Linked DNA regions of Homo sapiens. The protein of the gene in region 2 purifies or fractionates together with the protein of the main gene of each other region. This does not show direct contact. Each region holds a gene or a part of one and is shown on either strand. Other genes may lie near its edges.

Region 1 (3,500 bases), on a different chromosome or scaffold from region 2:
TCACCAGCTTTCTGCATTATTAGCCAGGTTAATTCAGGTTTCCATTTTTATCACTTAAATGGTTATGATACCAGACAGCCACATTAACCACACTGGTGAAGTATGAAGGTGAAATGAGTTGACGTATCTAAAAAGTACCAAGCACCTGATCGGTCCATGGTAGTACGGAATAAAATCTTATTACCAAATCTACGATACATCACTTTCTCTTATGACAGTTACAAAGATAGATTCAAATATACAAGTTAAATATGGCAGCTAGATTTTCAATTCAACCTTTTACTTTAGAGCTTAAGCCTATTCTCATCCATAGTCAGTCAGCTTCAGTATTACACAGCACAGACAGACAAGATGCACTGTAGGGAATGGTTAGAAACACAGGCTGGGGCTCAAACCCTAGTTCTACTTTACTAGCCCTGAAACTATGGGCACATTTTAAAATTTCTCTGTGCCTCAGTTTCTTTGTCTGTATGGGGCTATAACACTATCTACCCCATAAAGCCATTAGAAGATTAAACAAGTTAATACAAGTTAATGAAAAACACTCAGAAAAATACCTGACACTTTCAATAATGGTTAGTTATAATCACTAACCATCCTAACTTGGAATCAGGCTGCTCAGATTATTTTTCAAATTACTGAAAAATAAATGCTTCATATACCCTCAATTCCCAAACAAACTTAAGATTTCAAATTGGAAAGAATACTCTGCAAAATTTTGTTTACTAAATGACGCTATACCTGAGGTCTATCAGACACATATTTTGCACAATGGCGAATAAGTCGAATTGCTTCCATACTTGTGTCTGGGAAAGCTGCATTGCACGCAAATTCAGACAAACACTTCACTGCATCCTGGAAAGAATCAATGGTCGCTGGAAAGTGTTTTTCAAATACAAGGGCTAAAATAGAGAAAAATATATATTACTATAATTTTTCAATTATTCTTAGCTGTACCAAAAATACACCAACATCTAGATGTAATGCACTTCCTCTTAAAGGTTGTTACAGGTTCTGACATCCAACAGATACGAAGTTCAAGACTATCTTTACCACTTAACTGACTGCCCTGAGTGGTGAGAATAGTAAAACTTGTCTGTTTTGTTTACATTATAAACATAGCACCTAATACAGTGACTGGTACACGGTAGGTACTGATTCAACTTTGGTTGAATGAATATACAAAATTACTTAACCTCTCTGTATCTCGGTTTCTTGATATAAAATGGAAATAATAATAATATACACAGATAGCTGTAAGCACTACGTAAAATAATATAAGTGAAGTGCTTAGTGTAATACTTAAGCAAGCACGCAATAAATGATAGCTATGATGATGCCATGATTCTTGATGTTGATGGTCATCATTGTCATCTTCCATATAGGCTTAACTTATAATCTTAGTATTTCAGTCAGTCCCCCTTGAACTTAAGGGGACTCCTCCTTGAAGAAGGCTGTGCAATGTACTTACTGGTCAAAAATAAAGGCTTTGCTTTAATACTCCATGGGTCTCAAGACCATCTCCATCACTAGTTCTGTGACCTTACATAGACTGCTTAACCTTTCTGGGGCTGAGTTTCCTAATCTATTTTGAAAAAAGGGATGGACAATAATGTTTAACTGTGAAGATTAAAGAAATTACGTGAAAAGTGCACACAGTATTTGCCATATGGTAAATACTCAATAAATGTTAACTATAATAGTAATTTAATTGTTTTTATTTACTCTGGTTCTGTAGACAAAGCTTGGTAAACTTAAAGGCCATAATCTTATTGTTACTTGAATCATCTTCTGAACACGTTAAGGTTGCTTTTTTTTTTTCCTTTTACTTGAACACAGCTAAGAGAATACTCACTGACAATGTGCCCGGTTGTTTGGAATGCAAGTTCCACTATGCTTTCATCTTGATCAGATGCAGCTAGATGAAATACAGAGAAAATGTTCTTCCATCCAGATCGAATGTTAGCAGCTTGAGAATTAACCATCTGTGCTATACACCGTACAACCATATCTCGAATTGTTGGAGACCTAAAAATATTAATATAATTGCTTGGATATGCAAACCGATAAAACTCATCAGTTTTTCCCCCTTTCTTCTGTTTTTCTCCCTGCTGTGGAAAACAACAAGATTTTCCTTCTATTAAGCAATTCAACAAATATAGTACCTGTTCCGTTTCATTATATGTTCAAAAGGTCTTAAGAAATCCTTCTGGAATCTGAAGTTAGCAAGCTCCCCTTTCTCTAAGAACTTCATTGACAACTGCCTCAAGGAGTCTACTGCAAAAATAGCTACATCTTCATTAGGATTACACCCAACCTGTAATGGCGACAGAAATAAACGATGCTAATTAATATCAGCAGTAAAAATCTACAATTCTTTATTTTTTGTTTTAGAAAAAGTATAGAATAGCATAGATAGGTAAATCCTAAGATTTTCCATAAAGGCATTAAGTATGCTAAAACTATTTCTCAACAAGAAAAACAGATATTTTAAATCAAATTCTTAAAGCCCAGAGCAATCATTTCTAAAAAGAAAAACACCATTCACAGGGTTTTCTAATTTAATATTAAAAAGTAATAAATAATTGCTTGGAAGGGAAAAAGGCTCAATTTGATTACAAGGACATTCTAAACAAAAAATATACTACAAATGTAAACAAACACCATAGTTATTCAAATACCTTATTAAAATGATCTCCAATAACTTCCCAAATTCGAGACCACTGTAATCTTATTCTTCCCATGTTGTAATATGATATTTCTACTATTTTTTGTAGACTAAACATTCTTGGGTGTGTCGTGGAAAGTAATTCATCCATAGACACAGCACAGAGCCAACGGACAAAATCCACTGTAATATAAATACATTTTTTTTTTAGCTCAACATTAAAGTTATTTTAGCCCCAAGCCAGTTCCGAAGTAGAATAAATGCCCATACTTACCAATGGCATTTCCATCTAGCCTTGTAGATCCTGTGAATATTCTAGGGAAAATAAAACACAATTTAAAAAATTTATAAGTTACTGTTCTTATTCCAATTGAAAAGTATGTGGCATGGGGTACTAGCTATTTTTATGTTTTAAGGGAACAAAAAATTGGGTATTCAAATGAGTATTTTTCATCATTTAGTTTAGTAACAAGTGTAGTCTGGATGTTTCTCCCTCCCCTCCACCTCTACTCCATGTGAACCAGTTTACATTCAATATTATTATTAGGGTAAGTATATACTGCTGTAATTTTATCAGATTTACAAACCCCGGATAGATATGAGATTCTAAGAATAAGAAAAATATTAATTTGTAAAACTAATAATTGGCACACTACAGATTCTTTCCTGATTATTGTCTAGCATTAAGCAAGTTCTTAAAATGAAAAATTTGACGTATTTTTACCAGTAAAGTATATTTGATTAGAAAGTTCATTTACACTAAAAGTGACTTAATATAACCTTGCAAATAGTCTCAGTTTACCCAAGAATTGGCCAAACCACTTTCCTTAGG
Region 2 (4,273 bases):
GAAGTTTTTTGTTCCTTCTGGAGTTCAGTGTTCCCCCTCTGTAAATGGATACAACTAAGATGCGATGCTTGCCAAGTTAGATGCTACACAGAGAAGACAGCTGGTGCAGGAGCCCCGGTAGTCATGGCTATTCTGCCTCCCACTCTCCCATCCAGACAGGGTGAATTCTCAGGATGCCAGGCTTCTGGCCAAGGCTTCTCAATGCACAGAATAGTCCTGTTTCACCCTAAGTACCCCTCCCAGTCAAAGACCCTGTGTACTGGGGCATTCTAACTTAGCCTGGCACCTAAGTGCCCTTCTGCTCCTCAGGTAAAGGTGGGATGCATCTCATCCACAAGCCTGGCAACAGCCACCAACCCCTGAGTCAAGCCAGCTGACTATCTCCCAGCCAGGAACACAGTGTGCCAGTCTCTTCTAAGAACAGCATCCCCAGCAGGCCCCATTCTCCCTCATTCTACCGCCTACCCCTTCAGGCTCTGTTGCTCATGCCAGGCAAGGAGGAGTTGCCAGACCTTTCCAGCAAAGACTCCTGGAGTGGAGACACTCCTTTACTGGATACTTTCCAGGGTCTTCTCATTTCTTGCTCACTGACTCAGAGGCAGCAAAGTAGTGATTTGGGGTCCCATTTCACAGATGGGGAAAACTGAGCGAACTGACCCAGGGGTGCATAGTCTTTCCCACCTCAGGATGCTGAAGGAGCCCTCGAAGGCTTAGACCACTCACCTGAGCCACATCCAATAGGTAGATCTGAAGGAAGAAACCCAGGGCACAGCCCGTCACCTGGTAGGGGGCTCCCCCAAGTGCATAGCAAAGCTTGTTGCAAACAGACAACTGTTGTTTCTTCTTTTTCGGTTCTTTCTGGGAAGAGGAGGAAAAGATGAAAGGCCCAAGGTTCTGGCCTCCATCCAAGAAGGTTCCACAGGAAGGACCATCCCTCTGGCCAGCTCTACCAGAACAAACAACTCTGCTTTGACCTGTTCCTATCCAGGAGATCCCACCTTTTTTTTTTTTTTTTTTTTTTTTTTTTTTGAGACAGAGTCTTGCTCTGTTGCCCAGGCTGGAGTGCAGTGGTGCCATCTCGGCTCACTGCAAGCTCCGCCTCCTGGGTTCACGCCATTCTCCTGCCTCAGCCTCCCAAGTAGCTGGGACTACAGGCACCCACTACCACACCCAGCTAATTTTTTGTATTTTAAGTAGAGACGGGGTTTCACCATGTTAGCCAGCATGGTCTCGATCTCCGAGATCCCACTTTATACAAAAGAAAGGTGTTCTCCATTCTTAGGAACATGGAAAAGGGGAATCCATACTTGTGTGAAAGTAGCCCCTAAGCCACCTCCCTCCTGGAGATTCTAAGGAAACTTATCAGCCCACCATCCCTAAAGAACTCCTCCCAAGGCCTCAGGCACTGCTCCTTTCCAGGTTTCAGGGGGAGCATGCTCCAGCAGCCGACCTGTCCCCACCCGGCACCAGCTGCCACAACCTGAAAATCCGCTTGCTGCCAAGAGCTGCCTGAGCCCAGCCCAGGCTCCCACCCTGCCTCAGAGACAGGATCCACCTGCCTACTCCTGGTGAGAGCTCTAGAGAGCTACGGGGGCCCGGCCCAGCTGGCTGCAGGCGCAGCTGTTCCACCTATCCCAGAGCATCCCTGACCACTATAGGCAGCCAGAGCTTCAGGCGGACCCAGGAACTGTCCTACTCTCCAGCTTCCCGACCCATCGCCCTCCACCCCTGAGCTCCTAGAGGACCTTGGAGACGGGAGGAAAGGCCTCCAGGTTCAGGCCTGATCCCTCTCCGGGTGGGGCACTAGGGAGGTTGGGTTGCCCAGGGAAAGTAGATATTACTCATACATAGTAACAGCATAATTGCTCACCCAGCTCCTTCCAAAGATCAGTTAATAAAATTAAAAGGAAAAGGCAGTCACCTCCCACGAAGGTATCTATTGCCTGAGATCCTTTCCTAGGGGGCCGCCTCATTTTATTTGGTCCTTCAATAAGTCCCCAGGGCTGGGGATGTGGTCGATGGTCTCGATGCGCAAAGCACCGTTCCCGCGCGAACATCCACATTCAGACAAATGCCTGAGGGACGCGGCTCCTTTAAGAGCAGAGCTCTTGTTCTTATGAATGAACTTGAGCGGCCCTAACAGCAGAGTTGAGGCGCAAGAGTAGGTGGGTGGAGTGGGAGGTAGGGGATGAGAGATGGGGAACCAAGGGGAGTTTCCCAGATTTCTGGGGTCATCTCTGGGGTTTGGGGCGGCAAGCCCCAGCCGCTCAACACGGAAGAATGGAAACCGGCTAGGCAGAGCGGGGAATCACATGGGGCTGCCGGCAGAGCCTCTCCGCAGAGCGTGGAGTGCGGGTGAGCAAAGGGGGGCGAGGGCGCCCACAGCTTTTCTCCGTCACCCCCTGTCCCAGGGCACCCCCAGGTCCTCTCTGGCTCGTAGGCTTCCTGTCCCTGGCTATCCCAATGGTCCCCTGACCAGGCCGACCCCGGGACGCCCCTGATCCCCCATTTCCGCCTCCTCCCTCCCCTCGCCCTCCACGCGGGGTGCCGGGCCCTCACCTTCACCTGGGCCGGGCGTTCAGTGCTTTGGAGGATGCTGGTGGGTAGCAGCCCCGCCGCGGAGCCGCTCTCGGCGCCTTCTCCTTTGGCCATGACCCGCGGGCCACGCCGCTTGGGACCTGGTAGACGGGATGCTCCTCTGCCCCGCAGGCCGCTGCTCCTCCCAAGCTCGCTTCGTAGCAGCCTTAGCCACGGCCGCCGCGCGCTAGCCAAGCCGGCTGGCAGACGAGGAACGCACTCTGCTGCACGCCCCCTCCGCGCCTCTTATAGTTCTGCCCAGCCCTCTCGGTTGCGGCCAATCCCCGAGCCCCGCTGCCCCGCCTCCAGCCAATCCCGTCGCCCGCCTCCCTGCCCCCGCCTCGCCCGGCGGCTCTGTGCCACCGAGCCACGTTCTCCAAGCCCCGGAACCGGCATCTGCCTGCGCTGGCTCCTAGCAATCCGAGAAGCAGGCCGCGAGACCTCCCAGACACGCGCGAGGAAACCGAGGCCCCAGGCTGAAAGTGATCTGCCCGGGGTCCCCGATCTGCCCGAGGTCCCCGAGGTCCCCAAGGTCCGACTCTCCCCGAGTCGGGCCTACCACCCATGACTTCTGAGCCCCAGGCCTAGGAAAGGTAGGGGCTCTGAAGCCCACTTTAAAATCTGGAGTCAGGGCCTCTCTCCTTCTTCAAGCCTAGAGGACGTACGCTGACACTTTCCCTCCTGATGCCTCTCTCTCATCCCCGAAGACACACCATTCCCCCGTCCTGCCCTTGGCATCCGGGCAATGGGGAGAAAGATGAGGCAATCCAGTGGCTGCCCCTGCCAGAAGGGAGCTCCCAAGTCGTGGAGAGAAGCCGGGGCTACGCCCGCTAGTACACTATGACAACAGTGGCCTTTTTATGGATAGCTTCCTCCATGCTTAATATGATCTCTTTCGGCCCTCAAAAACCACCAAGTGAGGGTGGTACTATTATTATCCCCATTTTACAGCACAGGAAGGGGAAACTTGGAGAAGTGAAGCAACTGTTATGTAGCAGAGCCAGGCCTGAAAGGTTTTGTCCGATACCAAAGCAGTTGCTCTCAACAGCCCTGCTCTATCCCTCTTAGCATAAATTACAGACGGCAGAATGGGGTGTATGTGTCTCCCAACAAGAAGCCCTGGGAGATACATGGCTCCAGAGGCACTGAGGGTTGAAACAGGGAAAGTTTTGAAAAAGAGAATGCCCAGAAATGTGGTCCTCAAAAGAAGATGGGAGGGCATTAGTTTGGAACAGAAGGCAGGCACGGATGCCAGAAAAGAACAGTCTTTAGTTCCACCTCTGAGTCCCTTATGTCAATGTCACCCCGGTCTTTCCAGTTCTCTGATTAGTGAAGGGGCTGCTGGAACTCTCAAAGGCTACCCACCCGGTTCCTGTGCTCCTTAATGTCAGCCTCCTTCTTCCTTTCTTTAAATCTCTGATTGCAGGGAGGAGAGATAAGGTCTATCTGCCCCAGGATGGTCACACCATGCTCCCTCATACGCCAGCAGATCCCATCTGGGCACACAGCTCTTGGCCATTGCTGAGCAGAAGAGAGCCAAAGTGAGGCACTGAATACTGTGGAAAGGGAATGGCTGGCCCCATTACTCCAAGCTGTGTGACACTGTTCTGTCTCTTTTCCCCTCTCCAGGCTTGGTTAGCTAAGCTCCCTTGCAGCCCCCAAATCTTCTCTCCCACAGTCACACCATACCACAAGT
Region 3 (3,500 bases), on a different chromosome or scaffold from region 2:
ACGCCACCACGCCCAGCTAATTTTTTGTATTTTTAGTAGAGACGGGTTTCCTCCACATTGGCCAGGCTGGTCTTGAACTCCTGACCTAAAGTGATCTACGGTCTCCCAAAGTGCTAGGATTACAGGCGTGAGCCACCACGCCCAGCCAACATTAATATATAGTAAGTGCCAATTTTATTATTGGTAGCTGCAAACCAGAAAGTTTTGTTCCATCCTATTATTTGATAATATTTCTCAGAAACTAAACTTTGAATGTCTTTCTAAATGTTACAGTAATTCATCTACTTCTAAACCTGCATAAAACTATTTGATCAAATAATTTTATCAAAAGGAAAAATTAGCCCCTTCTCAGCTTTAAAGATAAATTAGACGGTAATTAAGTGCCATTATATTTAAATAACAACCTACAGCATAACGGTCACTGGCATTTTTAGGAGGCTGCAGTATATCTATTATGCAAGGCACTTAATAATTTATACTTTTACTTACTTTATTTACATGCCAGGTACTTAACATTTTAAAAACTCTTCCAACTTTTATAGGATACTTAATTTTGTCATCAAAAAGGTATAGCCTTAGACTGTATTTTAGAACAAAAAGTCTGCTTCTGGCACAAATAGACTGATACAGAAATAACTGTTACCATATGATGACAGAAACGTCCCAGCTGAAAATAATTGCTGCTAGTCCCTCCACACAACTTTTTAATTCATGTAGATTTTTAGAAGGTATGAGACATCTTTAATGAAATTAAACATCAATTTTTATTACTAAAAACTAAAATACTTTAAGAATGGAATGAACTAATACAGGTTGTATCCTCTCATATTTTATAATAGGAAAACCTGAAGAATAATTTTTAAAATCCAACCATTAATAGTAAGTACGGAAATCGGGCCGGGTGCAGTGGCTCATGTCTGTAATCTCAGCACTTTGGGAGGCCAAGGCAGGTAGATAGCTGGAGCTGAGGAGTTCAAGACCAGCCTGGGCAACATGGCAAAACCCCATCTCTACAAAAAAAAAAAAAAAAAAAAAAAATTAGCCAGACGTGGTGGCATGTACCTGTAGTGCCAGCTACTTGGGAGGTTGATGTGGGAAGAGCACTTGAACCCGGGAGGCTGAGGCTGCAATACGCTGTGATCACGCTATTGCATTCCAACCTGGGCGACACAGCAAAAACCCTGTCTCAAATTCAAAAAAAAAAAAAAAAAAAAAAGTACACATACCTAAAGGCAGGTGAGCATATGTTGGTACTCTGCTTAATGAACATCTCAATTTTATGCGAAACTTTACTAGAGAAATAAAACTTTTTTATTTGTTTCGTTTTGTTTTGAGATGGAGTCTTGTTCTGCCGCCCAGGCTGTCAGGCAGTGGCGCCATCTCAACTCACTGTAACCTCCACCTCCTGGGTTCAAGTGATTCTCCTGCCTCAGCCTCCCCAGTAGCTGGGGTTACAGGCACCCACCACCATGCCTAGCTAATTTGTTTTATTTTTGTAGAGACAGGGTCTCTCTTTGTTGGCCAGGCTGGTTTCGAACTCTTGACCTCAGGTGATCCGCCCACCTTGGCCTCCCAAAGTGCTGGAATTACAGGCTTGAGCCACCACACAGGCTTTTGTTTTTAGACAGTCTCACTCTGTCACCCAGGCTAGAGTGCGGTGGCATGATCACAACTCACTGCAGCCTCCATCTTCTGGGCTCAAGCAATCCTCCCACCTCAGCCTGCCAGGTAGTTAGAACAAGCACGCACCATCACGCCCCACTAATATTTTCATTTTTTATCTTTTGGAGACAGGGTCTCACTATGTTGCCCAGGCTGGCCTCAAACTCCTAGGCTCAAGTGATCCTCCAGCCTCAGCCCCCAGCATGCTGGGATTATAGGCATAAACCACCATGCCTAGCCCATGCTAATTAAAAAAAAAATTTGTTTTTGTAGAGACAGGGTCATGCTATGTTGCCCAGGCTGCTCTTGAACTCCTGGCCTCAAGCAATCCTCCCACCTCAGCCTCCCAAAGCGCTGGCATTACAGGCCTGAGCCACTTTGCCCAGCCCAGAAATAACACTTTTTTGAAGGGATTCGTTCACATATGATCCTCATCCAAACAGCAACCCTCAACTAATATGTACCAAAAATGCTCCTCATTTCTAAAAGATTAAATTAGTATGAGTGCAATTAATTGTTATAAGTAACAGAGACTAGTGAAAACAAAACAGAGATACAAATGAAAAATTAAGTGATTTTAATATACAAATAAGCCAAATGCAAAACACAGACTTTATTTCCAGGTGAAAGACACGAAAGACAGATTGATCTCAACTCTAATTTCAATGCCAACAACTGACCCCTAGATATCTTCTGGATTTACTAAATATTCATGTCTATTAAGAACTGGCAAATTTGCCGGGCACGGTGGCTCAAGCCTGTAATCCCAGCACTCTGGGAGGCTGAGGCGGGCAGATCACAAGGTCAGGAGATCGAGACCATCCTGGCTAACACAGTGAAACCCCGTCTCTACTAAAAATACAAAAAATTAGCTGGGCTTGGTGGCAGGCGCCTGTAGTCCCAGCTACTCAGGAGGCTGAGGCAGGAGACTGGCGTAAACCCAGGAGGTGGAACTTGCAGTGAGCCGAGATCGTGCCACTGCACTCCAGCCTGGGCGACAGAGCAAGACTCCGTCTCAAAAAAAAAAAAAAAAAAAAAAAAAAAAAAAAACTGGCAAATTATTAAAATAAATCATACTCATGGTTAGTTATGAGCATCCAGTCTTTCTAGTATCCTGTAACTAAAGAGTTGCTTTCTTACTGTTAAAATGGCATCGTAACATGGGCCCAAATATCATGTATACACCTTGTTATACAGAAAGTTTATTTTATATCAACACCCATTCAATTACTTGCCATATCCTCACTTCTCCCAAAATCGACATTATAAAAAATACGATAATTATTTTCTATTCAGTGCCCTCATACTTCTGATTCTGTACATTGCTGTACTTCTTTAAAACCTCTCAGAGTTTAAATTTGTTTGCAATACTATCCTTTAGTTTGGAAGCAATGTTTTGTTACTGTCAAGATAATCTTAAACTATTAAAAGCCTTTAAATCCAGCTGATTCTCAGAAATTCTTCCACCTATAAAACATGAGAATTATAACCAAATTAACAAATCAGATATCAGAATGCCAAAAATTAAGTCATTAAAAGAGAATCCAGTGAAAGAGCCAGTTGTGAAAGAACAGGAAGTGATGTACACTGCCATTTTGTAGATGAACTATTTAGAAACATAAGAAGTGCCATACTAATCTAGAATCAACTCAGACTAACAGCTCTCAGCATTTTCTTTCTGACAGTGGCATCAGAGGTCATCTGAAATAACCCTCAGGCAATTTTTCCTTAATAATGTATTTATCTAATTGATCATGAACATACTTTTCCACTTTTAGGCAACATTCCTACCAGCTATGAAAAAAGAGAGTTGTTTTTTTTTCAGTTGTCCTTAGTTA
Region 4 (3,974 bases), on a different chromosome or scaffold from region 2:
GTATAGCAAAAAACATAGCGTATATAAGGGTTGGTACTACCTGTAGTTTCAGGCATCCATTGGGACCCTTGGAACATATCCCTCTAGGATAAAGGAGGACTACTGTAATCTAATTCAGCCCTACTTTTATAAAAGGTTATAAATACAGAAGGAAGTTAACTGACTTGGCCAAGTTCGTTTGGCAGAGCCCGTACTGGAATCTGGCCATGAAATTCTAACTAAGTATACTTTTCACCACATCATGGTTGTAAAAAAAATTTTTGATTGGAAATAATGAAAGTGATTGAAGTTTTTCCTTGAATAAATTATTTGAAATTGTTAGTAGCCTGTTTTTTGTTTTGTTTTTGAGACGTAGTTTCACTCTAGTTGCCCAGGCTGGAGTGCAATAGCGCGATCTCGGCTCACTGCAACCTCCGCCTCCAGGTTCAAGCGATTCCCCTGCTCCAGCCTCCTGAGTAGTTGAGATTACAGATGCCCGCCACTACGTCTGGCTAATTTTTGTATTTTTAGTAAAGACGGGGTTTCACCATGTTGGCCAGGCTGGTCTTGAACTCCTGGACTCAAGTGATCCACCCGCCTCAGCCTCCCAAAGTGCTGGGATTACAGGCATTAGCCACCATGCCCGGCCTAAAGGATTATTTTCAATACATTTTTAAATCCTGCACTTGCTTCTGCCAGCTACCCAGTACTCAAAAGGGTATTTTGTAGAACCCAGCCTTCAAAAGGGTCCTTAGAAAGTGGAAAGTAATTTACATATTATTCTAAGTAATGCAAAATTAGTTTAGTATGTGTTCAGAGATTAATAACATATCCCAAAACAAAAAAGACATCTGAATTGATGTTATTGATATTAGTGCCCATAATTAGTTGTGTCTTGAAAAGTACCTTAATTGTCTTAATTGTGCATTTTATCTCAACTGTTATTCACAGAGCGCAAACCAACTTGGCAAAAAGCATGCTGAAAGAATATATACAAAATACGTGATATGAACAATATGTACCTTGGGAGAGCAAAGAAAGGTAAACACAACATAGACAGATTCGACTCTTAGAACATGGGTCGTCCAGGCACGGTGGCTCACACCTGTAATCTCAGCACTTTGGGAGGCCAAGGCAAGTGGATCACCTGAGGTCAGGAGTTCGAGACCAGCCTGGCCAACATGGTGAAACTTCGTCTCTAATAAAAATACAAAAAATTAGCTGGCTGTGGTGGTGGGTCCCTGTAATCCCAGCTACTCGATGGGCTGAGGTAGGAGAATCCCTTGAACCCGGGAGGCGGAGGCTGCAGTGAGCTGAGATCGGGCCATTGCACTCCAGCCTGGGTGACAGAGTGAGACTCCATCTCAAAAAAAAAAAAAAAAAAAAAAAGATGGGTAAAATTTGGATAGAGAAGAGCATGAGTAAACACACGGAGACAGAAATAAATTTTTGCCTCCTTTAAGTTTCTAAAATTGTCTAGTTAAAAAAAAAATTTGACCCCCTACTACAAAGGTAGATGAGATCATGGAAAGCTTGAAGACCACGATGAGAAATAGAAGTTTCCATGTTCATCCTAATTAGGAGAGTGACATTATTTGAGATTTCATTTCTAATTCTAAATTTCCAGAATTTTAATTTTTGACCCTATTAGCTGAAGAAGATTTGTTGAAATATTTGTTCAACATTTGTTGAACTTATTCAAGTTTCAAAAAACAAAAACATTCCTTAAAGCATCTATCTCATCAATTCTTTAACTTTCCCATAGGGAAAGTCCACAATCTCCCTCAAACAAAATTCACTATCAGAAATATTTGCATTTAACCTCCCCTATTTTTAAACCAAGGTAATATCTTTTAGTGTTCATATTCGTCCACGGATTTAACAGAGCCTTAGTAGCAGGCTTAAATGGTAGCACTAGCTTATTCAATTGCATAAAATGTACATTATTCAATTTAGAAGTTTAGCAGACATAGAATTTCAAGAGGTTCTGTCTCTCAAAAATCATAATGGTTCCCGTTCATTCTCATTCCCTCATATTCTCTCTCTCTCTCTCCTTCTTTCCCTCCCTCTCCCAGCCATTTGATACTGTAAAATAACTGTCATCTAAGACCGTTGCAAACACCAACCACAATAACCATATTTGCTCACTGAGTTGCCACTTAGCAGGTGCAACAAGGAAATACTGTTTCTCATCTCCTAAAACCAAAAGGGTTCATCTCGTACCTAATTTGTCACTTAAGTGAAAAGCATATCACGACTTACACTAACTTTCTCCTAAGTGTCAGAGGTTGCTGGCTTAACCAGACCGGAGAAGAGCAGGATCCCCGGGCCTAGCTTTGCTGAGCGGCACAGGGGAGCATCGCCTGGAATTGGTGGGTGTCCCTCCTCACTAGTGGGCACCCCCTTGCCCATCGACCTGCCCAAACCCGAAGGGACCCCGCCAGGGTCTCGGTTTGGCACCTACCCTCTCCTGCTCCCCGCCAAGAGCCAGCCACCCTCCTCGACCCCGAAGAAAGCTCGGGTGCCCAGCTGCGAGTGGAGCAGAGGGAACCCAGCGCCTCCGGCTCGCGCTGGGAGCCCCCTCCCCGCCGGTGCCCCGCCCACAGCACGGCCCCCACCATCCTCTCTGCTCTGGCAAGGCAGGCGAAGACCGGAGCCTTATCTCCGGACTCCCCCACCCCTAATCTCCCGCCGCGCTGCTCCGCACCTACCGCGCGGCCACCGGCCTTACCTGGCCGGGTCTCGGCGAGCGAGGCTGCGCCTGGTGCTTGCGTCCAGCGCACAAACCTGTCCTCCAGCCCCCGGCCCACCGCTCCGCTCTGCCCCTCCTCCCGCCGCGCGCGCCCGCCTCCTGGCTGCCATGGCGACAGTTCCCACACTCTGCGGCCGCTGATTGGTCCGGTTCGCGATTGCTGACGACGCCGATTGGCGGGAGCAGGGACAAGGCCGCGCCGGGGAGCCTGGAGGCGGGCGGTGAGGAGGGCCGAAGCTGTGGAGCCTGGTGGGAGGCTGAGCCAGGAGGGACGTGGCGCTCTGAGATGCGGGCTCAGGAGGCCGCGCCTCTTCCTTCCCTAGCTTACCCGGAGAATCCTGTGGAGCAGGACTCGGGCGGGTGAGGTGCCGTCCTGAGACCCGGGCAGAGCCCCAGGGATCGCCTCTCCCTTGGCCTCTGGCCTGCGCCTGCAGCGCCCACGCAGGTCGGAGAATGGCTGTCAGGCCTATTCTCGCCCACAGGCCTCGCTCGGCTCTGACACCCCCGTCCTCCGCCTTGGCGGGAATCTTAACGGCATTTGTAACCGCACCCACCCCCGTTGTGCTGGGCCCTCGGTCACTGTGGTTTAACTGTATTTACCCACCTTCTCTCTTGCCCATTCGCAGACAGCTCTTTCCTCTGCATCCTGCCCCAGAGAACAGACATCTATTCCAAACCCCTCATTTTAAAGATGGGGAAACTGAGGCTCAAAGATGCACATGGGTAGCTTGAGCCTTCCAGAAGCTTTTGGAGCCACAGGCTGTTTACGAAGTTTCATCCTGCCGATTAGTTTTTTTCACCTGAAAAATTGGTATCATATCTACCTTAGGGTTATTCACGAAGATTGAATGAGATAACATTGCCAGGAAAACAGTACAGACTAGGCATGGTGACTCACCCTGTAATGCCAGCACTTTGGGAGGCCAAGGCAGGAGGATGGCTTGAGCTCAAAAATTTGAGACCAATCTGGACAACAGTGAGATCCTATCTCTACAAGAATATTTTTTACTTTTTTATCTTTAACACAATGATGTTTCAGTCTGAAGAAAATACTTAAAAATTTGCCAGGTGCTGTGTCGCACATCTGTAGTCCCAGCTACTCAGGAGGCGGAGGCAGAGGCGGGAGGATCACTTGAGCTCAGAAGGCCGAGGCTGCAGTGAACCATGATCATTGTGCCACAGAGTGAGACCCTGTCTCAAAAAAACAAACAAACAAAAACACACAGTACAGAATCTGCCACAT
Region 5 (3,500 bases), on a different chromosome or scaffold from region 2:
CCAGATTTGGCACCAGGCAGTCTGGCTCTAATCTGGGCTCTAACCACTACTCTAAATCCCCTCTCTGTACAAAGTGCTCCACATATGGGGCCTTTGGCTGGGACTCACCTATATCGATGCAGAGTCAAGCAGAACAATTTGCAGAGCCCCTTCACTGCTCCCTCTGGAAGATCTGAAACCAGAGATTACACAGACAGCGGTCAATAAAAATCACTTGGTAAGCCGCTGGAGTCAGGTATTCTGCCCAGACATGATCTCAGCCCACTGGACACTCCCCATATATTTAAGACCTTCCTCCCCAAGAGGAAAAAGCAACAACAAAACAGGACTCTAGGAAAATGCCTGGTACAGAAAAGCTTTGGGTAGACATTTGCTAAATGAACGAAACTAAGAAAATAAAAGTGGCCTCGAAACCTCACATGCCATCAAGAGGAGGTTCAGGAGTGCTGGAATGGTTCTACTTCTTGATCTGGGTGCTGGTTATACTGGTGTTTAACATGTGATGATTCAGTGAGCTGTTCCATTAGGAGGCGTACCTTTCTTCACATACATTCTAATAAACGGTTTAAAAAACAGTGCAACACTGAAGTACTATGAGGGACCAGAAAAGGGAAGAACACCTATAACTGGAGTGTTTCTGAAAGTCTGAAGGACACATAAGCTTGGCCTATCAGATTAGTAGGCTCTGGAAAAATGGAAAGAGAGGGAGATACATGTAGAGTGCAGGGTTAAGAAGGCATAATACCTATTCAGAACACATGAAGAAGAAGAGAGGACTAATAACACCCTAGCTCTTAGTGCTTACAAGATGCCAGACCCTGCTCTAGATCATTCATACACATTCACTCATTTAATCCATGTAAGGTGGGCAGTGTTATTAAGGCCCCCCCGCCTTTTATTTTTCAGACGGAGTCTCACTCTATCGCCCCGGCTGGAGTGCAGTAGTGCGATCTCGGCTCACCGCAACCTCCGCCTCCCAGGTTCAAGTGATTCTCCTGCCTCAGCCACATGAGTAGCTGAGACTAAAGGTGCGCACCACCACGCCCAGTTAATTTTTGTATTTTTAGTAGAGACAGGGTTTCACCACGTTGGCCATGCTGGTCTCAAACTTGTGACCTTGTGATCCACCTGCCTCAGCCTCCCAAAGTGCTAGGATTACAGGCGTGAGCCATCGCACCCGGATTAAGCCCATTTTTAAATGAAGAAACCAAGTAATGGGAAACCAAGCCAGCCAGTCAGAGTGAAACAGATACACCCTAACTCTGGAGTGAAACAGATACACTCTAACTCTGGGCAGAAAGAGTTCAACTCTTGGTTGAACAAGAGTGCTCAATATGGCTGGGGGCAGTGGCTCACGCCTGTAATCCCAGCACTTTGGGAGGCCAAGGTGGGAGGATAACTTGAGGTCAGGTCAGGAGTTCAAGACCAGCCTGGCCAACACGGTGAAACCCCGTCTCTCCTAAAAATACAAAAATTACCTGGGCATGGTGGCACGTGTCTGTAATCCCAGTTACTCAGGAGGCTAAGGTGGGAGGATCACCTAAGCCTGGGAGATTGAGGCTGCAAAGAGAATCGCTTGAACCCAGAAAGTGGAGGTTGCAGTGAGCAGAGATGGCGCCACTGCACTCCAGCCCAGGAGACAGAGCGAGACTCCATCTCAAAAAAAAAAAAAGAGTGCTCAATAATGTTGGAAAGCCAACCTGTGACAAGTGCTGCATGACACAGTGAAGCACGCAAACAAAAGGGAGGAGCTTCTGAGGAGGAGGAAATTTAACCTGCAGTGTAAGACAGACTTATACTGGGTGTAGGAAGAACCTGAGAGCAGGAGGCCCATACCATTCCTCACACTTCAGGCACCTGAATGATGGAAGAGAAATGAATGAGGTACAGGGACGCAGTTTCCCCAGGGCCCTGACCACTGCATTGGTCCATGTGATTTGGGGCTATTTCAGTAACTGGGGAAAAAGAATGACTGGGGCCAGAAACAGGTTGTGGCTAAGACAATGACAATAACAGCTAACACACACTGTGAGCTTACCATACCCAGACAATGCGTTACATTTACTCCAACCTATCAGGGAAGTACTACTGCTATCTCCATGTTCAAAGCAAAGAAACAGGCTCAGAGAGGTGAAGTAACTTGAAGCAGGTCACACAGCCTGTAAGTGGCACAGCCCATCTGAGCCCTTCATCACTGACTGCTGCACTAGAGGCCTGTGACTGGAAAGATCGGTATCACATGGCTGCCTTTTCTAACTAGAGGGCTCTGCTGGGAAAGTGACCAGAAAAACCGTCGAGGATGCCATAAAACTCATACATTGAAGCATTAACACACAAGAGACTCTCTGAGACGCTCACAAATAGCAAGTTTACAAGCTTGGGTATCTTACTAGGCATAAGCAGGTCAGAAGCAGCAAATGAGAAGTTGGGTGAAGTGGTAGAAATAGGAAGTAAAAGTGGACAGAAAGGGAGACCCAATCTATATGGCCATGATTTTCTTTTTTTTTTTTTTTTGAGACAGAGTTTCGTTCTTGTTACCCAGGCTGGAGTGCAATGGCGCAATCTCAGCTCACTGCAACCTCCGCCTCCCAGGTTCAAGCGATTCTCCTGCCTCTGCCTCCCAAAGTAGCTGGGATTACAGGTGCCCACCACCACACCCAGCTAATTTTTTTGTATTTTTAGTTGACACGGGGTTTCACCATGTTGGCCAGGCTGGTCTTGAACTCCTGACCTCAGGTGATCCATCCTCCTCGGCCTCCTAAAGTGCTGGGATTCCAGGTGTGAGCCACCAAGCCCAGCCATGGCCATGGTTTTCAAACTTTAGTAAACATAGGAATCACCTAAAGGACTCGTTAAAACACAAATGCTGGGTTCTGTGCCCAAACTTTTTTTTTTGACACAGGGTCTCACTCTGTCACCCAGGCTGGAAAGCAGTAGCACAATCATGGACCACTGCAGCCTCAACCTCCTGGGCTCAAGCGATCCTCCCACCTCTCAACCTCCCAAGTAGCTGGGGCTACAGCACCTCCAGGATTTCCGATTTGAGTTGCTCCAATGGAGCTGAGAATTTTTATCTCTAACAAGTTCCAAGATGATGCTGATGCTGCCTGTCCAGGGACCACACTTTGAGAGCCAATGCTATACGGTAAAAACAAACATACCAAAAGAAATGAAAAAAAAAAAAAACAAAAAACTAGAATTTATTGAGTGAAGGCAAAATGGTCTTACTCTAATAAGTCATAGAGCTATCCCTTGGTTATGGTGCAGATCAGGATAATCAGATATGCTCAGCATTTCCCAAAATGTGTTCCCCAGACCCTCAACAGATTTTCAGCAAAAAAGAGGTTCAAAGAAAACACTGAATCCAAGGAAGCTTAATAAAGTGAAAACACCTTGTTGCGAATATTCCAAGAGGACATCAAAAACATGACCTCTAGGCTGGGCATGGTGGCTGACGCCTGTAATCCCAGCACTTTGGGAGGCCAAGGCAGGCGGATAAC
Region 6 (3,500 bases), on a different chromosome or scaffold from region 2:
TTTTGAGCTTGGTTTCAGTGTCTCTTTTATACTTGAACAGTGTCCTTAAATTAGATTCCATGATCAGTGTGAGTGCCTATGAAAAATGACTTGTAGGGCTCGTCCCTATAATCCCAGCTACTCAGTAGGCTGAGGTGGGAGGATCAGTTGAGACCTCCAGGAGTTTGAGACCAGCCTGAGCAACATAGTGAGATGCCATCTCTTAAAAAAAAGAGAAATGAAAAGTGACTTGTTAGGTAACAAATCTACAGGACTCTTATGAAAAGACCCAAACGAATTTTTCCAAAACCATTTTGTTTCAATGACCATCCATTTAAACTGCCAGTTAATTGAAGGATAATTTGCTATAACATACCTGCTGGACTCATAACTTATAGACAGTAAAGTGATGGTGATACTATCCTTTGTCATAGGCTGGTGTGCATTGTAGCCTCTCATGGTCACCACATGTACTGATTGTTCTTGGTTATTTATTTTTTGGGGACAGGTAGGCAGTGTTTTAAGATGTTGAATTGCAAGTATATTTTACCTCTCATACCTAAATCCATATAATAAAGGAGAAGAGAGAATGCATTTAGAGGATATTGGGTTTAGGTAAAATAGTGCTGCATTTCATAAGGTAGCTGTATTTCTGAAATACCTGGTCTGAAATAGGTCAGGTCCTCTTCATTCTGAGATAGATAGGAAGCAACACTAGATTTCAAATGATAAATATTGGATTACCTCCCCAGTTTGACTGTTATGTTGGTGTGTCATCGGTGGGGGAATGTCACTTACCTCTTTTTATTTTCATCATTTCTTTTTGTTCAGGTGAGCTATTATAGGGTATTTAATATGTATTGGGGTATTCAAACTAGTCATAGCGTAACTACAACAGTTAAGTTCTCTGCATTATTTTTAGTCTCCAAGTCCTCTTGTCTGCTGTTGATGATTTGCTAAATACACTTCTAGAGAGTGAAGATTCTTATCTTATGGGAGTTTATATTGGAAGTGTAATGCCGAACGACAGTGAATGGGAAAAGATGAGGCAGTCTCTTCCTATGCAGGTATTTTGGAAATTGAAGAGTACATATCTCATTCTGAAGTTTGGATTTCATGCAAGCTTGAATATTTTTATTTTGGGGAAGAAAAACATAAATAAAATGAGTATTTTGCTTTGCTTTGATGTCTTTGTATGCTCATATACTGGATGTTTGCTTTTTGCAAGACACCATTTGACAGTGGCAGTGGGCATGGTACAAAGACTTAGGACCTAGTTCTGTACTTAAGGAGTCTTAAAGAAATACACATGTTGATAATTTCCTGTAAAAGAAAACAAACTTCTAGGTTTCTGTGGTTTTGGTAATAAATATTCTCACAACTTCATTTTTGTTCAGTCTCAATTGCTTAGGTAATAAATAATTTTGTATATAACGTATTCTTTTCACAGTGGTTACATAGACCTCTTTTAGAGGGAAGATTGAGTTTGAATTATGAATGTTTCAAAACAGATTTTAAGGAACAGGACATAAAGACACTTCCCAGCCATTTGTGTACTTCAGCATTATTGAGCAAAATGGTCTTAATTGCACTGAGAAAGGAAACAGTCTTAGAAAATAATGAGCTTGAGAAAATAAGTAAGTATATATGAGTATTTACATATAACATAATGCATGAATGAATATAATTTTGAAATAATCTTGATTATACTGCAGTTTAAATCTTTAATTCAAGAATCTTCAGCTTTCTTTTTCCTATTTTAATGATGAGAACCTTGAAGTTACTTAAGTGGTGAATGTGAAATTGCAAATTAGATACGAATATATTGGAATCTTGCTATAATCTTGTTAACTGTGGATCGTAATTTGGTGTTAGCTACTCAGGCTGTCATGACATCAATGTAAACAGATCCTGTGGCACATACCCTAAAGAAAATGGGTGAGGCTTTGGTGTTTTATCAAGGATTCAGAATTTTCTGTTGATTAAAAAAAAATTGATACCTGATAATTTTACATATTTATGGGGTACATGTGATATTTTGATATATACATAGAATGTGTAGTGATCAAATCAGGCTAAGCAGGATATCCATCACCTCAAACATTTATCATTTCTTTGTGTTGAGAACATTTCAAATCTTCTAGTTATTTTGCAATATAAATCATTGTTAACTATGGTCATCCTACTGTGTTATTGAATACTAGGTCATATATCTTCTCTCTCACTGTATTTTGGTACCCATTCACCGACCTCTCTTCATCCCCTGCTCTCCCTGACCCTTCTCAGGGTAACCATCAGTCTACTATACTATTCTATCTTCATGAGATCCACTTTTTTAGCTCCCATATACAAATTAGAACATGTGATGTTTGTCTTTCCGTGCATGGTTTATTTCATTTAGCATGATGATGTCCAGTTTCATCCATGTTGCTGCAAATGACAGTATTTCATTCCTTTTTTTTTTTTTTTTTTTTTTGAGACAGAGTCTCGCTCTGTTGCCCAGGCTTGAGTGCAGTGGCGCAATCTCGGCTCACCACAACCTCTGCTTCCCAGGTTCAAGTGATTCTCCTGCCTCAACCTCCCAAGTAGATGGGACTACAGGCGCACACCACCATGCCCAGCTAATTTTTGTATTTTTGGTAGAGACGGGGTTTCACTATGTTGGCCAGGCTGGTCTTGAACTCCTGACCTCGTGATCCGCCCGTCTCAGCCTCCCAAAGTGCTGGGATTATAGAAGTGAGCTACCGTGCCTGGCCTCATTCTTTTTTTAATGGCTGAATAGTATTCCATTGTGCATATGTACCACATTTTATATATCCATTCATTCACTGATGGACACTTAGGTTGATTTCATATCTCAGCTATTGTGAATAGTGCTGCAGCAAATATAGGGGTGCAGATATACCTTTGATATACTGGTTTTCTAAATATTCAATGGGATTGCTGGATTGTGTGATAGTTCTATTTTTAGTTTTTTGAAATACTTCCATATCGTTTTCCAAAATGGCTGTACTAATTTGCATTCCTACCAATAGTATATAAGTTCCTATTTCTCTGCATTCTTGCCAGCATTTGTTATTTTTTGTCTTTGTTTTTTTAGAGATGGGGTGTTACTATGTTGCCCAGACAGGTCTTTATCCTGGGCTCAAGCAATCCTCTTGCCTCAGCCTCCCAAAGTGCTGCGATTACAAGCAGTGCCACCATTCCCAGCTTATTTCTTACCTTTTTGACAAGAGGCATTCTAACTGGGGTTTTGATTTGCATTTCCCTGATGATTACTAATATTGAGCATGGGATTTTTTTTTCCTTTCTTGCCGTTGAGTTGTTTGAGTTCCTTATATATTCCTTATGTTAGCCCCTTGTTGGATGAATAGTTTGCAAATATTTTCTCCCATTCTACAGATTGTCTCTTCACTTTGTTGATTGTTTCTTTTGCTGTGCAGAAAGCTTTTAGTTTAACATAGTCCTATTTGCCTGTTTTTGTTGCCTTCGCTTTTGAAGTCTTAGCCATAAAAATATTT
Region 7 (4,296 bases), on a different chromosome or scaffold from region 2:
GTGGTTGATACCTGTAATCCCAGCATTTTGAAAGGCTGAGGCAGGAGGATTTCTTGAGCCCAGGAGTTCAAGACCCGACTGGGCAACGTAATGAGACCAAAAAATGAAACAGAACAAAACAACAATAACGAAAACCACACAAGAAAAGAAAGAAACAAAAAACCAGTTAGTGGCTTGTGTGCCTAACTCTAGGTAAAACGGAGAGGTGACGAAAGTTTGTATGAGAACAAATAGGATTCTTTAGGACAGACGAATGGGTTTTGGGAGAACAAACACGAGATAAGAAAGGGTTTTTTATTTTTTTTGAGACGGAGTCTGTTGCCCAGGCTATAGTGCAGTGGTGTGATCTCGGCTAACTGCAACCTGTGCCTCCCGGGTTCAAGCGATTCTTCTGCCTCAGTCTCCCGAGTTGCCGGGATTACAGGCGCGCGCCACCACGCCCGGCTAGTTTTTGTATCTTTAGTAGAGACGGAGTTTCACCATGTTGGTCAGGCTGGTCTCGAACTCCTGACTTTGTGATCTGCCCGCCTTGGCCTCCCAAAGTGTTGGGATTACAGGTGTGAGCCACTGCGCCCGGCCGATAGTTTTTTAAAAATGTAGGTGCTAGTGGTCTTACTGTCTTCTTCATGGACATGAAATTATTCTCATATAATGAGAATTAAATATGATCCTTCATGTAAAGAGTTTAGAATAATGTCAGAAACAAAGCAAGCAATAAATTATCATTTAGTTGATAAGAATCATTCCAATTCATCTGGCGAGTGCAACACACACACACACTGTATTTGTGTATGGAATAACTGTTCAAGAACACACACACAGTATGTGTGTATGAAATAACTCTTCAAGAACAAAGGGGAAACCGTTATAGGGCATGAAAGGGGAAACCGTTATAGGGCATGGAAGGGGAATTAGGACAAGGTGTGAGTGGAAAGAGAAACATCCCACCGCACACGCTTAAAAAAGCCGTTTAATTTAAAAATAGGTAATACAGCCATACAGAGAAGACATTAAAAGATCTACACAGAAAATTTTCGCTCCCAATCCATTCCCTACTCACAGTCCTACATACGTTACTTTTATTTTCCTTTTTTTTGGAAATGCACTGGCCCCCTACTCTCTCACGAAGGCTGAACTCTCTCTACATTCTTCTGCACCTGTTTTTTGTGCATACTCTTTCGTTGTCAAATATTTCCCTCCAACTGTTGTTGTGTATGAAATAAATACACACATATAAGCTAACCAGCCCCACTTGCCCGCACCACCTACACGCCCGTCCCCGCCCTCCCTCAGGCCCACGTGCTCCGAGGGCCGCCTTCGCAGGTTGTTTCTGGCGATGCCTGTCTGAAGGCCTCAGACTGAGGCCCCGCCCACTCTCCCTCTCCTCTGCCCTTTGGACGCGCGCCTCGGTTCCGAACGCAGCGGACGGCGCCTCAGGCAGCGCGGCGGACAGCCCGTCCTCCGGCGCGCCGCGAGCCTCGGAGGACCCTAGCGACGGTCGTGGCGTAAGACCGGGGGGACGCGGCGGTAGCGGCGGCCGTTGCGATTGATTGCGCTGGTTGCCTGCGGCGTCCACTTCCTTGGCCGCCCTTGCTACACTGGCTGATTGTTGTGCAGCCGGCGCCATGTCTGTGAGCGAGATCTTCGTGGAGCTGCAGGGCTTTTTGGCTGCCGAGCAGGACATCCGAGAGGCGAGCCCCCTCCCTTCCCCATTCCCTTTGCCTTTCCATGCCTAGTTGGGCCACTTCGCCCGGCCCTCCTCTGTCGCTCAGTCTCGGGCGGTGGGGACGCCTCCGAGGGTGGGTTGCTTCCCCTCTAGCTTTAGGTTAGGCACTCCCCGCCCCCGCCCAAAATTTTGCTGCTCTGTCCTGATTCCCCGTGTTCGAGTCTCAGCTTCTCAGCATCACTTGCCTCGTTTGTGTCAGTTTTCCTTCTTTTCAGCACTTGTTTATATCGAAGGCTCGATTAGCACCTGGTCTTCAGCGAATGAGCGTTTCGTGTATTTTTGTTGGTGTCTTAAAAGCACATGTGATCTGCTTAAAACTCTCCTGTGATTTCCTATGCCACACAGGATAAAAAATCAGACTCTACTGTGGCTCACATGGTTTCTCTTCAATCTCGTTTATGCTCTCTGTCTTTGTGTATGATGTTCACTTTACCTCTTCTAGTGCCCCAAATAGCTTCCTGCCTGTTTGCTTTTCCTGGAATTTGCTTCTTTCCCGTTCTTTTCCTGATTGTCTCGTATTTATCTCATTGGCGTCACAGTCTAAGCGATCTATTTCCTGTTATGTTTTCTAGTAGCACATTAACTTTTTTTAATGTGTGTAATATTGATTATTTTAAAAAAATCTTCTCCCTCATTGTATGTTAAACCGCCAGAGGGAAGGGATTGTGTGCTTGGTTCCCCGGTATTTACACAGTGCCTCGCACATAAGTATGCTCAGTGAATATTTTAAAAATGAATTAGAGGCGGGGAGCGGCGCCTCATGCCTGTAATTCCAGCATTTTGGGAGGCCGAGGCGGCCAGATCACCTGAGGTAAGGAGTTTGAGACCAGCCTGGCCAACATGGGGAAACCCTGTCTCTACTAAAAATATAAAAGAACATTAACTGGGCATGGTTGCGCACACCTGTAATCCCAGCTACTCGGGAGGCTGAAGCAGGAGAATGGCGTGAACCCGGGAGGCGGAGGTTGCGGTGAGCTGAGATCGCGCCACTGCACTCCAGCCTGGGTGACAGAGCGAGACTCCGTCTCAAAAAAAAAAAAAAAAAGAAAAAAGAATTAGAAATACCCGACTCTTGTGTTGCATTTAACTCTTCATTTTGCAAGTTGCGTTCACACACGTCATCCATTATAATGTCCCAATTGAATACTTGGGTTTAATGGGTGGCTATTATTCTTTAAAGGGTATCTGAGGAATCTAAGGCTTTTTAGTGACTTTTTGAAGTCTTACAGAGGAAATAAGTGGAAAAGTCAGGATTCAAACTTGGTTATGATAGATCACATAAGCTATCTAATGTGTTTTGTGTGAGTGTATGACAATGATTCTGTTGAGTATCTGATTTTTATTTTTAATTCTCTCTAGGAAATCAGAAAAGTTGTACAGAGTTTAGAACAAACAGCTCGAGAGATTTTAACTCTACTGCAAGGGGTCCATCAGGGTGCTGGGTTTCAGGACAGTAAGTTCTTTGTTTTGTATCCAATTATCAGTCTCTTATTTAGAGGGAGAGTTTCTATCCAGAAGACATTTTATAATGAAAAATGGCTATCATGCTTTATGGTGAGTAAAAATTGAAGAAGTAGGTGATTTGATAATTTTGGTTGATTTTTCTTCCACTTCCACACAGTATGGTTTAAACAGAGATGTTTTCTATTGCGAGGGCATTCTACTGATGATAATTACAATTGCTTAACCCATTTCCTGTTTAGAAAAAAAAAGTGCAGCTCTCTGCCAGCACAGTATTCTCAGGGTAAGCGGGAAAAGGGTTTATTATTATTTTTTTAATTTTTTTTTTTTCTGAGACGGAGTTTCACTCTTGTTGCCCAGGCTGGAGTGCAGTGGTGCCATCTCAGCTCACTGCAACCTCCGCCTCCTGGGTTCAAGCAATTCTCCTGCCTCAGCCTCCTGAGTAGCTGGTGTTACAGGTGCCCGCCATCACGCCCAGCTACTTTTTTTTTTTTTGGTATTTTTATTAGAGATGGGGTTTCACTTTGTTGGCCAGGCTGGTCTTGCACTCCTGACCTCAGATGATCCGCCTGGCTGGGCCTCTCAAAGTGCTGGGATTACAGGCGTGAGCCACTGCACCTGGCCCAAGGGTTTGTAACTCTTTTGTGTTATCTAGTGACTTTTATTTGGCCCTTTGTGTGTGTGTGTGTGTATGTGTGTATGTGTGTATATGCACCTGTGTGTATTTGAATCCAGCCTTTCAGTGATTGAATACCTTTTAATATGAGATTAACAGTATAAAATGTTCTCAAATTAATGTGTTTATAATCAGCCTCTTGAATGAAAATAAAATATGTCAAGTTTAGACATGGAACCTTCATTGTAAGGTATTGCCAGCACAGCTAAAGGAGCTGAAGTATATTTTCAGATACAAGAATGATATAATAATGCATTTACACGTGCCAGAGGCAAGTGATTTTTCTTAATGATACGGAGTTGGTCATCCTGATTGTGAATACTTGGTAAAGGCTTTTTTCTGCCAAATATGGGAGGAAGAAGCAATCCAATTTTAGGCATCCTCTGAGGAGTGAACAGGAATAGCAGCTGGTGTGCATCTCCTTAAGGATGAC

What was found.
Region 1: the proteins of MFSD2A (region 2) and ARFGEF1 purify together in Homo sapiens (affinity purification with mass spectrometry; one large-scale study listed by BioGRID and IntAct). This does not show direct contact.
Region 3: the proteins of MFSD2A (region 2) and TAOK1 purify together in Homo sapiens (affinity purification with mass spectrometry; one large-scale study listed by BioGRID and IntAct). This does not show direct contact.
Region 4: the proteins of MFSD2A (region 2) and NUCB2 fractionate together in Homo sapiens (co-fractionation; one large-scale study listed by BioGRID). This does not show direct contact.
Region 5: the proteins of MFSD2A (region 2) and GCN1 purify together in Homo sapiens (affinity purification with mass spectrometry; one large-scale study listed by BioGRID and IntAct). This does not show direct contact.
Region 6: the proteins of MFSD2A (region 2) and LTN1 purify together in Homo sapiens (affinity purification with mass spectrometry; one large-scale study listed by BioGRID and IntAct). This does not show direct contact.
Region 7: the proteins of MFSD2A (region 2) and TSN purify together in Homo sapiens (affinity purification with mass spectrometry; one large-scale study listed by BioGRID and IntAct). This does not show direct contact.

What each region holds. Positions count from the first base shown.
Region 1 is NC_000008.11:67,225,282-67,228,781, forward strand, and holds part of ARFGEF1 (brefeldin A-inhibited guanine nucleotide-exchange protein 1), read right to left. Parts: intron 2,984-3,500; coding exon 2,943-2,983; intron 2,852-2,942; coding exon 2,682-2,851; intron 2,318-2,681; coding exon 2,166-2,317; intron 2,029-2,165; coding exon 1,856-2,028; intron 903-1,855; coding exon 742-902; intron 1-741. UniProt on the Homo sapiens protein: Promotes guanine-nucleotide exchange on ARF1 and ARF3. Promotes the activation of ARF1/ARF3 through replacement of GDP with GTP. Involved in vesicular trafficking.
Region 2 is NC_000001.11:39,953,672-39,957,944, reverse strand, and holds the start of MFSD2A (sodium-dependent lysophosphatidylcholine symporter 1), read right to left. Parts: upstream 2,801-4,273; 5' UTR 2,653-2,800; coding exon 2,560-2,652; intron 859-2,559; coding exon 724-858; intron 1-723. UniProt on the Homo sapiens protein: Sodium-dependent lysophosphatidylcholine (LPC) symporter, which plays an essential role for blood-brain barrier formation and function. Specifically expressed in endothelium of the blood-brain barrier of micro-vessels and transports LPC into the brain.
Region 3 is NC_000017.11:29,393,363-29,396,862, reverse strand, and holds part of TAOK1 (serine/threonine-protein kinase TAO1), read right to left. Parts: intron 1-3,500. UniProt on the Homo sapiens protein: Serine/threonine-protein kinase involved in various processes such as p38/MAPK14 stress-activated MAPK cascade, DNA damage response and regulation of cytoskeleton stability. Phosphorylates MAP2K3, MAP2K6 and MARK2.
Region 4 is NC_000011.10:17,275,565-17,279,538, reverse strand, and holds the start of NUCB2 (nucleobindin-2 isoform 1 preproprotein), read right to left. Parts: upstream 2,801-3,974; 5' UTR 2,711-2,800; exon of another isoform or gene 2,687-2,710; intron 2,517-2,686; exon of another isoform or gene 2,242-2,516; intron 1-2,241. UniProt on the Homo sapiens protein: Calcium-binding protein which may have a role in calcium homeostasis. Acts as a non-receptor guanine nucleotide exchange factor which binds to and activates guanine nucleotide-binding protein (G-protein) alpha subunit GNAI3.
Region 5 is NC_000012.12:120,184,716-120,188,215, forward strand, and holds part of GCN1 (stalled ribosome sensor GCN1), read right to left. Parts: intron 173-3,500; coding exon 109-172; intron 1-108. UniProt on the Homo sapiens protein: Ribosome collision sensor that plays a key role in the RNF14-RNF25 translation quality control pathway, a pathway that takes place when a ribosome has stalled during translation, and which promotes ubiquitination and degradation of translation factors on stalled ribosomes.
Region 6 is NC_000021.9:28,954,878-28,958,377, reverse strand, and holds part of LTN1 (E3 ubiquitin-protein ligase listerin), read left to right. Parts: intron 1-901; coding exon 902-1,046; intron 1,047-1,429; coding exon 1,430-1,616; intron 1,617-3,500.
Region 7 is NC_000002.12:121,754,155-121,758,450, forward strand, and holds the start of TSN (translin), read left to right. Parts: upstream 1-1,496; 5' UTR 1,497-1,625; coding exon 1,626-1,691; exon of another isoform or gene 1,692-1,799; intron 1,800-3,085; coding exon 3,086-3,179; intron 3,180-4,296. UniProt on the Homo sapiens protein: DNA-binding protein that specifically recognizes consensus sequences at the breakpoint junctions in chromosomal translocations, mostly involving immunoglobulin (Ig)/T-cell receptor gene segments.